3 linked regions of the Homo sapiens genome follow. The protein of the gene in region 2 purifies or fractionates together with the protein of the main gene of each other region. This does not show direct contact. Each region holds a gene or a part of one and is shown on either strand. Other genes may lie near its edges. The genes, in order: FBXL17, ZBTB49 and UTP25.

Region 1 (3,654 bases), on a different chromosome or scaffold from region 2:
TCAAATGGGTTTTTTGTGGTTTCTCTGGGGTTTTCTATTCATAAAATAATGTCATCTTCGAATACAAATAGTTTTACTTCTTCCTTTCCAATTTGGAAGCATTTTATTTCTTTTTCTTGCCAAATTGCTCCTTAGAACTTTCAGCACAATGTAAAACAGGATTGCCAAAAGCAGGCATTCTTGTCTTATTCTTGATCTTAAGGAAAAAGTTTTCCACCTTTTATCACTGAATATGTCAGCTGTGGGTTTGTCACATATGGTCTTTATTATGATGAGGAAGCATCACTCTATTCCTAGTTTGATAGGTTTTTGTTTTGCTTTGCTTTTTCAAGAAAGGCTGCTTATTTCACCAAATGCTTTTGCACACCAATTAAGATGACTGGTTTTTTTTTCCTTTCATTCTCTTAATGTGGTATATTACATTGATTGATATTTGTATGTTGAGCCACCCTTGTACTCCTTGGATAAATCATAGTAGGTTACGGTGTAGAATCCTTTTAATCTGGTGCTGAATTCAGTTTGCTAGCATTTTGAAGATTTTTACATACTCGTTAAAGATACTTGTCTGTAGCTGTTGTTTGTTTTGTAGTTTCATTTTTGTAGGGTCTTGGGCTGGCTAATGCTAGCCCCACAGAATAAGTTAAGAAGTGTTGCCTCCTCTTCAATTTTTTTGAAAGAGTTTGAGAAGGACTGGTGTTAATTCTTCTTTAAATATTTGAAAACATTCACCATCAAAGCTATGGTCCTTAGTCTTTCTTCATTGGAAATTTTTTTAACTGATTCAATCTCCTTATTTATTATAAATATATTCCAATTTTCTACCTTTTTCTTTTTTTGTTAAGAGATGGGGTCTTGCTATATTGCCCTAGCTGGAGTGCAGTGAATATAGCTTCAGCCTCCTGGGCTCAAGCAATCCTCCTGCCTCAGGCTCATGAGTAGCTGGAACTCAGAATTTCTACTTCTTGGGTCAGTTTTTCTGGTTTCTGTATTTCTAGAAATTTTTCCATTTCTTCTAGCCTATCCAATTTGTTGGTATGCAGTTATTCATGGTTTTCTCATACAATCCTTTTTAATTTCTATAAAGTCAGTAGTAATGTCTACTCTTTCATTTATGATTTAATAATTTGAGTCTTTTTTCTTAGTCAATCTAGTTAAAGGTTTGTCAGAGTTTTTTAAAATCTTTTCGAAGAACCTAGTTTGGTTTTCAATAATTTTTTTCCATAGCTTTTCTGTCCTCTATCATGTTTATCTCTGGTCTGGTTATTATTTCCTTCCCTCCACGAACTTTGGGTTTAGCCTGCTCTTCTTTCTCAAGGTGTACGCTTTGATTACTGCTTTCAGATCTTCTTTTTTAATGTAAGATTGTACAGCTATAAACTGCCCTCTGAGCACTGCTTTTGCTACATCCCTTGAGTTTTGGAACGCTGTGTTTTCATTCTCACTCATCTCAAGATATTTTCTAATTTCCCTTGTAATTTCTTCTATAAGCCATTGGTTGTACAAGACTCTGTTATTTAATTTCTACATATCTGTGTATTTTCCAATTTTCCTTCTATTATTGATTTCCAGATTCATTCCATTATGGTTAGGGAAGACACACTGTATGATTTCAATCTTTTTTAAATGTATAAAACTTGTTTTGTGATCAAACATATGGTCTATCTGTGAGACTGTTCCATGTGCACTTGAGAAGAATGTGTATTCTTTTGTTGTTGAGTGTACTGTACATATCTGCTAGGTGCAGTGGGTTCATGGTACTGTTCATCCTCTGCTTCTTTGTTAATCTTCTTCCTAGTTGTGCTATTCATTATTGAAAGTGAATTACTTAAGTCTCAAATGATTAATGTACAACTGTCTATTCCTCTCTCCAAGTCTTTCAATTTTTGCTATATATATTTTAAGGATTCTGTTGTTAGGTACATATGTGGTTATAATTGCTACATCTTCCTGAAAGATTAATATTTTATATTTATCAATATATAATAATTCTGTCTCTTGGATCCCTTTTGGACTTAAAACCTGGTTTTTTTGGATAATAAAACAGCTATTATAGCTCTCTTCTGGTGTGGAATATCTTTTTCCATCCTTTCAACCTCTATGTAGTTACTTTCATCAGTTTTCTTTATTCTTCATATGGCTTTCAATTACCATCTAGCATCTTATTTCAGCCTGGAGGACTCCCGTTAGCATTTCTTGTAGGGCAGATCTATTAGTAACAAACTCCTTTAGCTTTTGCTTATCTGGAAATATCTTAATGTCCCCTTGAGTGCCCCTATTCTTTAACAGTTTTGACAAATACAGAATTCTTGCTTGACTTTTTTTTCTTTCGACACTTTAAATATTGTTAGCCCACAGCTTTCTGGCTTCCATAGTTTCTGATGATAAAACAGTTGTAAATCTTATTGAGGAGTGCTTGTATGTGATGAGTCACTTATCTTTTGCTGCTTTGAAGATTCTGTCTTTGACTTCTGACAATTATACTATAATGTGTCTCAGTGTATATCTCTTTGACATTATCCTCCCTGAATTTATTGAGTTTCTTGGACGTATAGATGCGTATCTTCCACCAAATTTCGGAAGTTTGGGCCATTATTTCTGCAAATATTCTTCCTGCCCCTTTTATTTCTCCTTTCCTTCTGGAATTAGCAAAATGTGAATGTTTTTCTGCTTGATGGATGTCCCACCCATCTCTTAGGCTCTACTTACTTTTCTTCACTCTTTTTTCTTTCTCTTTCTTAGACTCAATAAATTCAATTGTCCTATCTTCTTTCTTCCACCTGCTCACTTCGGCTCTTGAATCCCTCTGGTAAATGTTTTATTTCAGTTATTGTACTTCTTAGCTCCAGAATTTCTATTTGGTTCTTTCCATAATTTCTAGCTCTTCATTGACATTCTCAATTTGTTCATACATTATTTTCCTAATTTCCTTCATTTCTTTGGCCATGGTTTCCTTTATGTCTTTGAGCATATTTCAGATAATGGATTTAAAATCTTTAGTAAAATCTTTAGTAAATCCAATGTCCAGGCTTCCTCAAGAATGGGTTCTATTTATTCTTTTTTGTTTTAATGGGTAATACTTTTTTCTTTGCATGCCTTGTAATTTATTGTTGAAAACTAAATATTAAAATATTAGATTATAATGTGGTAACTTGGGAAATTAGATTCTCCCCACTTCCCTACGCTTCACTATTTTTGATTAATCAAGGCTTAGCTTGTGTTCAGCCAGTGTTTTGAAAGAGATTTCCTTGGATGCCAAAGCTTAAAAACAAAACTAAAACAAAAAACAAAAGCACTTATTCAAGTCTTTGCAGACTGGCTCTGTGCTGGGATATTTCTTTAAGACTTAGCCATACCATTCACAACTCTGCCTTGGCCTTTACTTCCTGCTTGTACTGGACCTAGCAAGCACACAGTGATAAAGTTTACAGTCTTCTTAGGTCGTTCCTGAACAAGTGTCCTGCCCTGGGCATGCATGCGGCTTTCAAAATTCCCTTCTATACACTGAGGCTGATTGTCCTAATTTCAAAACAAAAACAAAAATAAAAACAAACTCTCTCCCAGGCTCTTTCTCCTAGGTCAATTGTATGTCTCACCATAATCTATTGCCCAAAGAAGCTTGCTCAAAAGCAAGTTTCTTTCATTTGCCTTATACTG
Region 2 (3,654 bases):
CAGGTGGATCATGAGATCAGGAGATCGAGACCATCCTGGCTAACATGGTGAAACCCCGTCTCTACTAAAAATACAAAAAAAAAAAAAAAATTAGCCAGGCATGGTGGCGGGCGCCTGTAGTCCCAGCTACTCAGGAGGCTGAGGCAGGAGAATGGCGTGAACCCAGGAGGTGGAGCTTGCAGTGAGCCGAGATCATGCCACTGCACTCCAGCCTGGGCAACAGAGCAAGACTCCATCTCAAAAAAAAAAAAAAAATTCTAGCAAGTGGTAATAATAGCTCTCGTTTATTAAGAACTTACTATGAATGAAGCTCTTTGCTAAACCGTTGCGAAGAGTATTTAACTTAGTCATCACAATGTCTTGTAAAGCAGTATTATCCATGTTTTACAGAGAAGTCAACAGAGGCTCTGAGAGGTTAGTAACCAGCCTTGGGTCATAAAATGGGGACTGAATTCACTAATTCAGGTTTGCCTAGTGACTCCAAAGTTTGGACTGTTAAACCTATGTTAACGATATTAGCAGTAAAGGAACTTTGATCCTTTCTAATACCATTTTACCTTCAAATGGAGTTAGAATTTTTAACAGAAAAACTATGCTGTAGAGAAGAATTAACATCTGCCTTCAGCAATTTTTATAATAAACTCCTTCTGACAGGTACTTGAACCTCAGTATTTAAACATGAACAAACCCAGCATCTATTCCCTATCATGAGCACTCTTAACGGCAGTTGAGTGTTTATATCAAAAAAAAGTCAGGAATCGTAATCATTTAGAGATAAAAGAGATCCCAGATATTAAAAGTCAGCTAGCTCAGGAGTTTCAAGACTTTAGGATTTCACACAGCGATAAAATTAAAAAGAAAAAAATGTAAGGTTTAACATAGAGATATCACTTAAACAATGACTGCTATTTTGATAAAAGGACATTCAACGGTAAAGGTGTGGCAAATATAACCTCAGAGATGACAATGTAATAGCTTGGGCCAAGCTCACTAAGTGTCCTTATTTTTGTGTTTCCACCATGGATGGCTGACACTGTCACCTCTGGCATGAGTCCACATCAGCACCCTGGAAATGCCTCCTATAGGGTAATCCTGCAGAAGGCACTAGGACCCCCGGACTCGGGCAGACAGCTGGCTAGACGGCGCTGCTGGCAGAGTACTGCCTCTCAAAACCCGTCTCTCTGTACCAGCTGCCCAGTGTTTCTGTTTCTGCCTACTTGGAGGAACAAAAGCAATCCTACTCCTCTCCCCAAAGACAGGTAATTACGCCGCATTTTCTTTCCCGTTTCTCAAATGACAAGCGCTCAAAACTTGTCACTCTTTTGGTTCTCTCCAGTGCCCTCCAAACAGTCCATGTTCTACGCCACAGAGGAAACACTTCCCTCTGACTGCGACTCAGTCATACTCTAAAGTAGGACATGACTCTTCCGTTAAAGTATGACATGACTCTTCCCTGCAGAGATCTGGACACATACAGTGTCCAGTCACACGGACAGATGCAGCTTCTGTGGTCACTCTAAGATGATGCTAACTTCCTTATGCTGGCATGCCATCCTCATAATGCAGGCTGCGGTTAACTATTTTAAAAAGACTAACCTACTAAATACTAAATTCTCAGTAAGCAGGATGAGGGATTCTTATTTGTAAATGTTTTTATACAACAGCATTCCAATTCCATGTAACCACAAACATTTATTCTAGTTCATTACAAGAAAATAATGTTAGGCATACGGTGGAGGATGGGCCGGTGGGCATTCTTTACCACGCATCCCTATGCAGACAATCTGACTGCTTTCTTGCCCCAGCATGCCAGGGATGCCAGGCTTGCCCAGTGCCTGCTTGTCTGCAGGGCTCACCTAAGCAATCTCTCAAGCATTTCATGGCCTCATGCTGTCCCAAACACACCTTTCAGGTAGAAAGGACTACTGCCTTTTCTTTGCCCACACTGTTCCCGTAGATAACTGTCAGCAGTTCCAACATTTCACTGTACTCGATCATTTACACGTCTGTTGCTTCCTCTAAACAATAAGCTCCTGGAGGCCATGGCCATTTCTGTCCCCCTTCCCGGCACACAGCAGAGCTCATGGACAGCACATGGACACTGTAGGCTTGCAACAAACATTAAAACAGTTCCTTGTTCATCAAAATTCATACTTTACTATGAAAATAAAGCAGCAATATACATCTGAAAACTATCACTATGTATGACTCTACAATCACAGAAACCTAACAAAAGTACACAGACCAATACAGAAGGGAAGGGTTTCTGGATCGGGCAGGGCTACCCTTGGTAAGATTTAAGAGAGCAAGTGCAGGTCAAGAGCTATAGTGGTGGTTCTCAACCTTGGCTGCACACCAAAATTGCTGAATTTTTAAAAATACTGATACGTGGCTGGGCACGGTGGCTCACGCCTGTAATCCCAGCACTTTGGGAGGCTGAGCCTGGTGGATCATGAGGTCTGGAGTTTGAGACCATCCTGGCCAACATGGTGAAACCCCATCTCTACTAAAAATATAAAAACTGAGCTGGGCGTGGTGGAACGCACCTGTAGTCCCAGCTACTTGGGAGGCTAAGGCAAGACAATCGTTTGAACCTGGGAGGCAGAGGTTGCAGTGAGCCCAGATTGCGCCACTGTACTCCAGCCTGGGCGACAGAGCGATGCTCCATCAAAAATAAATAAATAAATAAATAAAACATCAATACCTAAGCCCCACTCCAAATCACAGAATCAGAATCTCTGATGTGGGCACCAAGGATCCGTGCCAGGAGAGAGGAGTGGAGGTGGACTGCAGCCTGACTGAATGTCGGGTTTTAACTTATATGGTCAGCTATGGAGAGTCAGAGAAAGCATGAGAAGGATGGAACTTCTACTCTCAACATAATTTAAATGTATAAAGGGCTTTCAGCTCTAGTTTTTCATTTCATTTTCCCACTAGTTCCACGAAGTAGTATTATCCCTATTTTAAGAATTAGAAAAATGAGGCCCAGAGAAGTCGCAATTGCTAATTATTCATGGTCATTAGTCCGAGTCTCATGCTTTTCCCATCAAACCACAGCTGCTGAGATGAAAACGGTGGGGGCGGGGAGGTGCCTCAGAAAGACCGGCATCTGGGGGTCATGAGGATGGACAGGAGAGGAGAAAGCGGATGGCAACAAGGTAGGGAATGCTGGCGTTTCTTGAGCGCTTACTATGTGCCAGGCCCTGCTCTAAGGACTTTCCGTTATTACCTCATTTACTCCTCACACTCTATGAGGTTAACTAATCTTGTTATCCGTGTTTCACAGATAAGGAAACTGAAGGGGCAAAAGGTGAGACTGCCCAAAGTCACAGGGTAGTGACGCCCTGACAGAGGCAGAGCTCAGTTCTAGACTGTCCAGCCCCAGAGGCCAAGCTCTGAACCCCAGGCCAGGCTGGCAGGAAGAAGCGGAGGCTCATCAAGAATGGCGGCTGGAGGGACGAGCACTCAGCTCAGCTTATCAAATCCTTCCTGAGCATCTGCTGGCTGCTGGGTGTTCTCCTGGATGGGAGAGAAGACATGGCCCCAGGCCCAGAGAAATGAAGTGCTCAGGAGGACATGACCCGACCGAGTACGCGATGAGAGACGGCGAGGACTTGGTGAATCCCAGCAGGCAGGGACTCAGAGAGTGGGAGG
Region 3 (3,654 bases), on a different chromosome or scaffold from region 2:
TTTCAGTCCTAAAACTGATAACACTGCAGAGTGTGTGGAGAAGGAGAAAAAAATTACAGTACAAATTACATCGGGTAATAAAGACATCCTATATTTCTCTACAAAACAAGATCCCACCTTAAAAAATCTTGAGCAGGGTATTCCCATCTTCACCAAAGACCAAACAAAACAGCATAAGCAAAAACCACATGTGGGATTATGTTAGGTAAAGATGTTCCTGGTGAGGACCCATCCATCCATCAACCTATCCCATCCACCCATCCACCCACCCTAAAGTTAGTAGAAAGAAATTTTAAGGGAAAGAAATCTTTTCTGGAGATTTGAAAATGACTGACAGGAATTTTAATCTGTAGACAGTTTAATTATGGACAATCTCTGGGTAGAAAAGGGGACAAAAGACTTTTTCAAATTAGAAAATGTGGAGTGTGTGTCCTTGCTTCCAAACAAGAGTTCTAATCTGGACTTAAATAATTCTTTAGGACTTAAACCACTGGGTGTCTTATCCCTCTAAATATGAATACTGTCCCACTGAATGTGAATGGCCAGCATTACCAGGACATGCTCCCAGTTCTGCATCAGGTAAATGTCAGCTTGATCAATGATGAGAAGCTCGATAGAAGACAGAAAGTCAAAATCTCTCTTCTTCTCTCCTTCTCCACCAATGATGGTCCTCAAGCCCAGGGGGGAAGCAATGAGGATATCCGAGGAGTAAAACGGGGCATAGAGTCGGATGCTTCTCTGAAGTATTGCCACTCCTACACAAAACAGCCAAGTACACACCAATTCATTAGTCACTACCAAGCCATTACCTTCCACCCTCTCAAAGCAGTCCACCACTTCTATTGCTTCCACATCTCTTTTGTTCCTCTTAGCATGTAACTGTGCTCAACTGCTTTAATTATTAAAACATAAGAACAAGAGAAATCTCTCCCTTGCATCTATAGTCCCTTCTAGCTTCTACCTTCTCTTCCTTTCCGTCACTATCAAACTGCTCCAGAGAATTCTCTCTACTTTCAAATCTCTCCTTCACTTCTCACTCCACTGCAATCCGGCCTCTGATTCTCAGGACTCCAGAGAAATGACTCTTGCTAAGGTCCCCACAGTCCTCAGTCACCAACAGGATGAACACTTTTGAGAGCTTCTTATGAGGAAAGTACAAACGGCACAGAATGTACTAACAGCTGCCTTGCAATGCTCTTTTCCTTGCTAATAGTTTCCATGACTTCAACTCTCACTTTTGCTTCTATCACTGACCTGGCCCTTGTCTGTCCTTCCAGATCCAAATAACTCTTCTGCAAACTGGTGGATTCACTTGTCAGCTCTGCTCTCGTGCTGCATAAAGCTTTGGGTTAACTGACTCACTGATCATGGCTTTAATGTCACCTTCACACAAATGTGTATTTCCAGCCCATATCTTTTTCCTGAGCTCCAGAACAATATACCAACTGCTTCCTGGACAGCTATATATGTTCCAAACAAAACACGAGCTCTTGTCTCCTTATGCCTTACATTCCACCATACCGAAGCCTGTGTGAATCATAGGTCATTCCAAGCTTAGTCACCCTGATGCCTCTGCAACAGGCAGTTTCCTGTCTGAAATGTTTTCCTCCACTCAGCCACCTCCCTTTGAAACTGGCTGAATCCTACACAGGTTTCCACCTAGTACAGATGACACCTCCACCACGACATCTTCCCTAACCACCCTGCCCCCATTTTGGGTAAGGGGGTTTGCTTTAAATGCTCCGAGAACAACCGTTGCACACATATCCTGCACTGCCTGCTCTGTCGTAGGCTGGATTTCCTTAGCAATGGGAACTATAACTTTTATTTCTATATTTATCTGTAGATTCCCAGCTTCTTAACAGTGCCTGGCACACTGTAGATACTCAATAAGTATTTGTGAATGAGCATATGTGACTAATGAACATTTCCCCAAGAACTTTACTCTATAAAAGGTATAACCAACCAAAGTCAATGGGAGCTGAATGAGAGACAAGCAAAAATGTGAAAATTTGGGTGGAAGTCATGTGTGGAGATTATTCAGGGTAGGCATCTATGTAGCACACAGGAGAAAGTCCACCTTTATGTAGAGACAGTCATTTTATTCAGCCTCCCCAGAATGACCCCATCAGCCCCATCACTTCCAACATCCTAGAGAACCCCTTGTAGCATCTATCTGCTACCAGCTATGGGTGTGCTTTCACACTTCTGTTATAAACTTGCTATAAATTTCTGTTATAAATGTACATGTGCCTTTCATATATGGCCTCAGAGATCCTCCCGACTCCACTGGCCTAATGTCCACCCCATTAGCCAAGGCAAGACTCTCCCATGGCAAACAACATGTCTCAAAGGCACACTGGTTCTGTTAAAGAGGCACAGTGAGTGATCCACTGGGAAAATATCTAATTCCAGCTTCTGGTCTCCAGCTATGTAGACCTTCACACTTTAGGTCTCAAAGTTGATAAGGAAGAATTACCAATCCTGAAGTGGTCATCAATATTGCCCACAAATACGGCTTCATAATCCTCAGGCCTCTTCAAGTTGGGTGGTCTCTCCTCGGGATCTGATCCATATTCTCCCTGAAACCTCTTTTTGTTGCTCACAATGATTTTCTTCTTGCTGTCACCCTCGAGGAGGCTGATGAAGAGCTGCACCACCCGCAAAGCAGCTTCCCGGAATGGCACCACTATCAGTACCTGTGCAGACAGCAACAGCAGCCTTAGTGGGGTAAGAGGAAGGAACAGGATCTTGAGGTGAAACTGCTGAGGAAGTGGAGCTAAAAAGCTCCATGTAGAGCAGTGGCCCCCAGCCAAGAAACATACCTATGTTACCCGCTTTGCGCAGGGCTTGGCTCAACACCAGAAACTGAGCACCTTTCATAACCCCAGCACCATGACCTGCGGACTTCAGACCCATCAGTCCACGTGAGACATTTCTCAAGCAGAATTTGGAAATACCTTTTACAATAAGCCAATGCCTCTAACAGATACGTCTACCAGTAAAAACTCAAGGACATAAACACATGAGCTCTTTGAGGGAAAGATTTCTGTGTCTCCCACAGAATTAGTGCAATATTTTTATCCTAAAGACACAGTGAATAAATACATGTCGAATAAATAAATGGAACAAGTAGAGAAGAAATAAAGCGGGTAAGAAAAAGGATTAACACATCATTACATTTCTAGTGCATTCTCTATACAGTGTTTCAGAAATGACAATAAAGCATTTCTAAAAAAAAATGACCACAATTAATGGGAAAAACAGGACTCAGCTTTCTAAGCATATTCAAAAATATTTAAAGTTACTGTTGAGAATAAAAACCGAAGATGCTTAAAAAATGGTTAATTTCTAATTTCCTATTGTAAACAATGGACATAACCCCAGTTAAATCACGTAATTCACCAAATTATAATATGTTTCATAGATAATCTGCCTCTTATTCTTCTATGTAATTCTAAATGGAAACAACCTTATAACCCTGATGTTCAAGCCCCAAGGAGTGCAGTGGACTCAGCTTGGTACAGTTGCAGAGATGGTGGACCAAGATTTAAGAGGACTGGGTTATTGTTCCAGCGGTGACAGTAAGCGTCGGGGCTTTGGTTTCCCCCGCTATTACACAAGGGAGTTTGACTAAGAAATCTCTAAAGGCCA

The links.
Region 1: the proteins of ZBTB49 (region 2) and FBXL17 purify together in Homo sapiens (co-immunoprecipitation; one large-scale study listed by IntAct). This does not show direct contact.
Region 3: the proteins of ZBTB49 (region 2) and UTP25 purify together in Homo sapiens (affinity purification with mass spectrometry; one large-scale study listed by BioGRID and IntAct). This does not show direct contact.

The regions. Positions count from the first base shown.
Region 1 is NC_000005.10:108,358,064-108,361,717, forward strand, and holds part of FBXL17 (F-box/LRR-repeat protein 17), read right to left. Parts: intron 1-3,654. UniProt on the Homo sapiens protein: Substrate-recognition component of the SCF(FBXL17) E3 ubiquitin ligase complex, a key component of a quality control pathway required to ensure functional dimerization of BTB domain-containing proteins (dimerization quality control, DQC).
Region 2 is NC_000004.12:4,307,113-4,310,766, reverse strand, and holds part of ZBTB49 (zinc finger and BTB domain-containing protein 49), read right to left. Parts: intron 1-3,654. UniProt on the Homo sapiens protein: Transcription factor. Inhibits cell proliferation by activating either CDKN1A/p21 transcription or RB1 transcription.
Region 3 is NC_000001.11:209,837,954-209,841,607, reverse strand, and holds part of UTP25 (U3 small nucleolar RNA-associated protein 25 homolog), read right to left. Parts: intron 2,700-3,654; coding exon 2,480-2,699; intron 756-2,479; coding exon 553-755; intron 1-552. UniProt on the Homo sapiens protein: Component of the ribosomal small subunit processome for the biogenesis of ribosomes, functions in pre-ribosomal RNA (pre-rRNA) processing. Essential for embryonic development in part through the regulation of p53 pathway.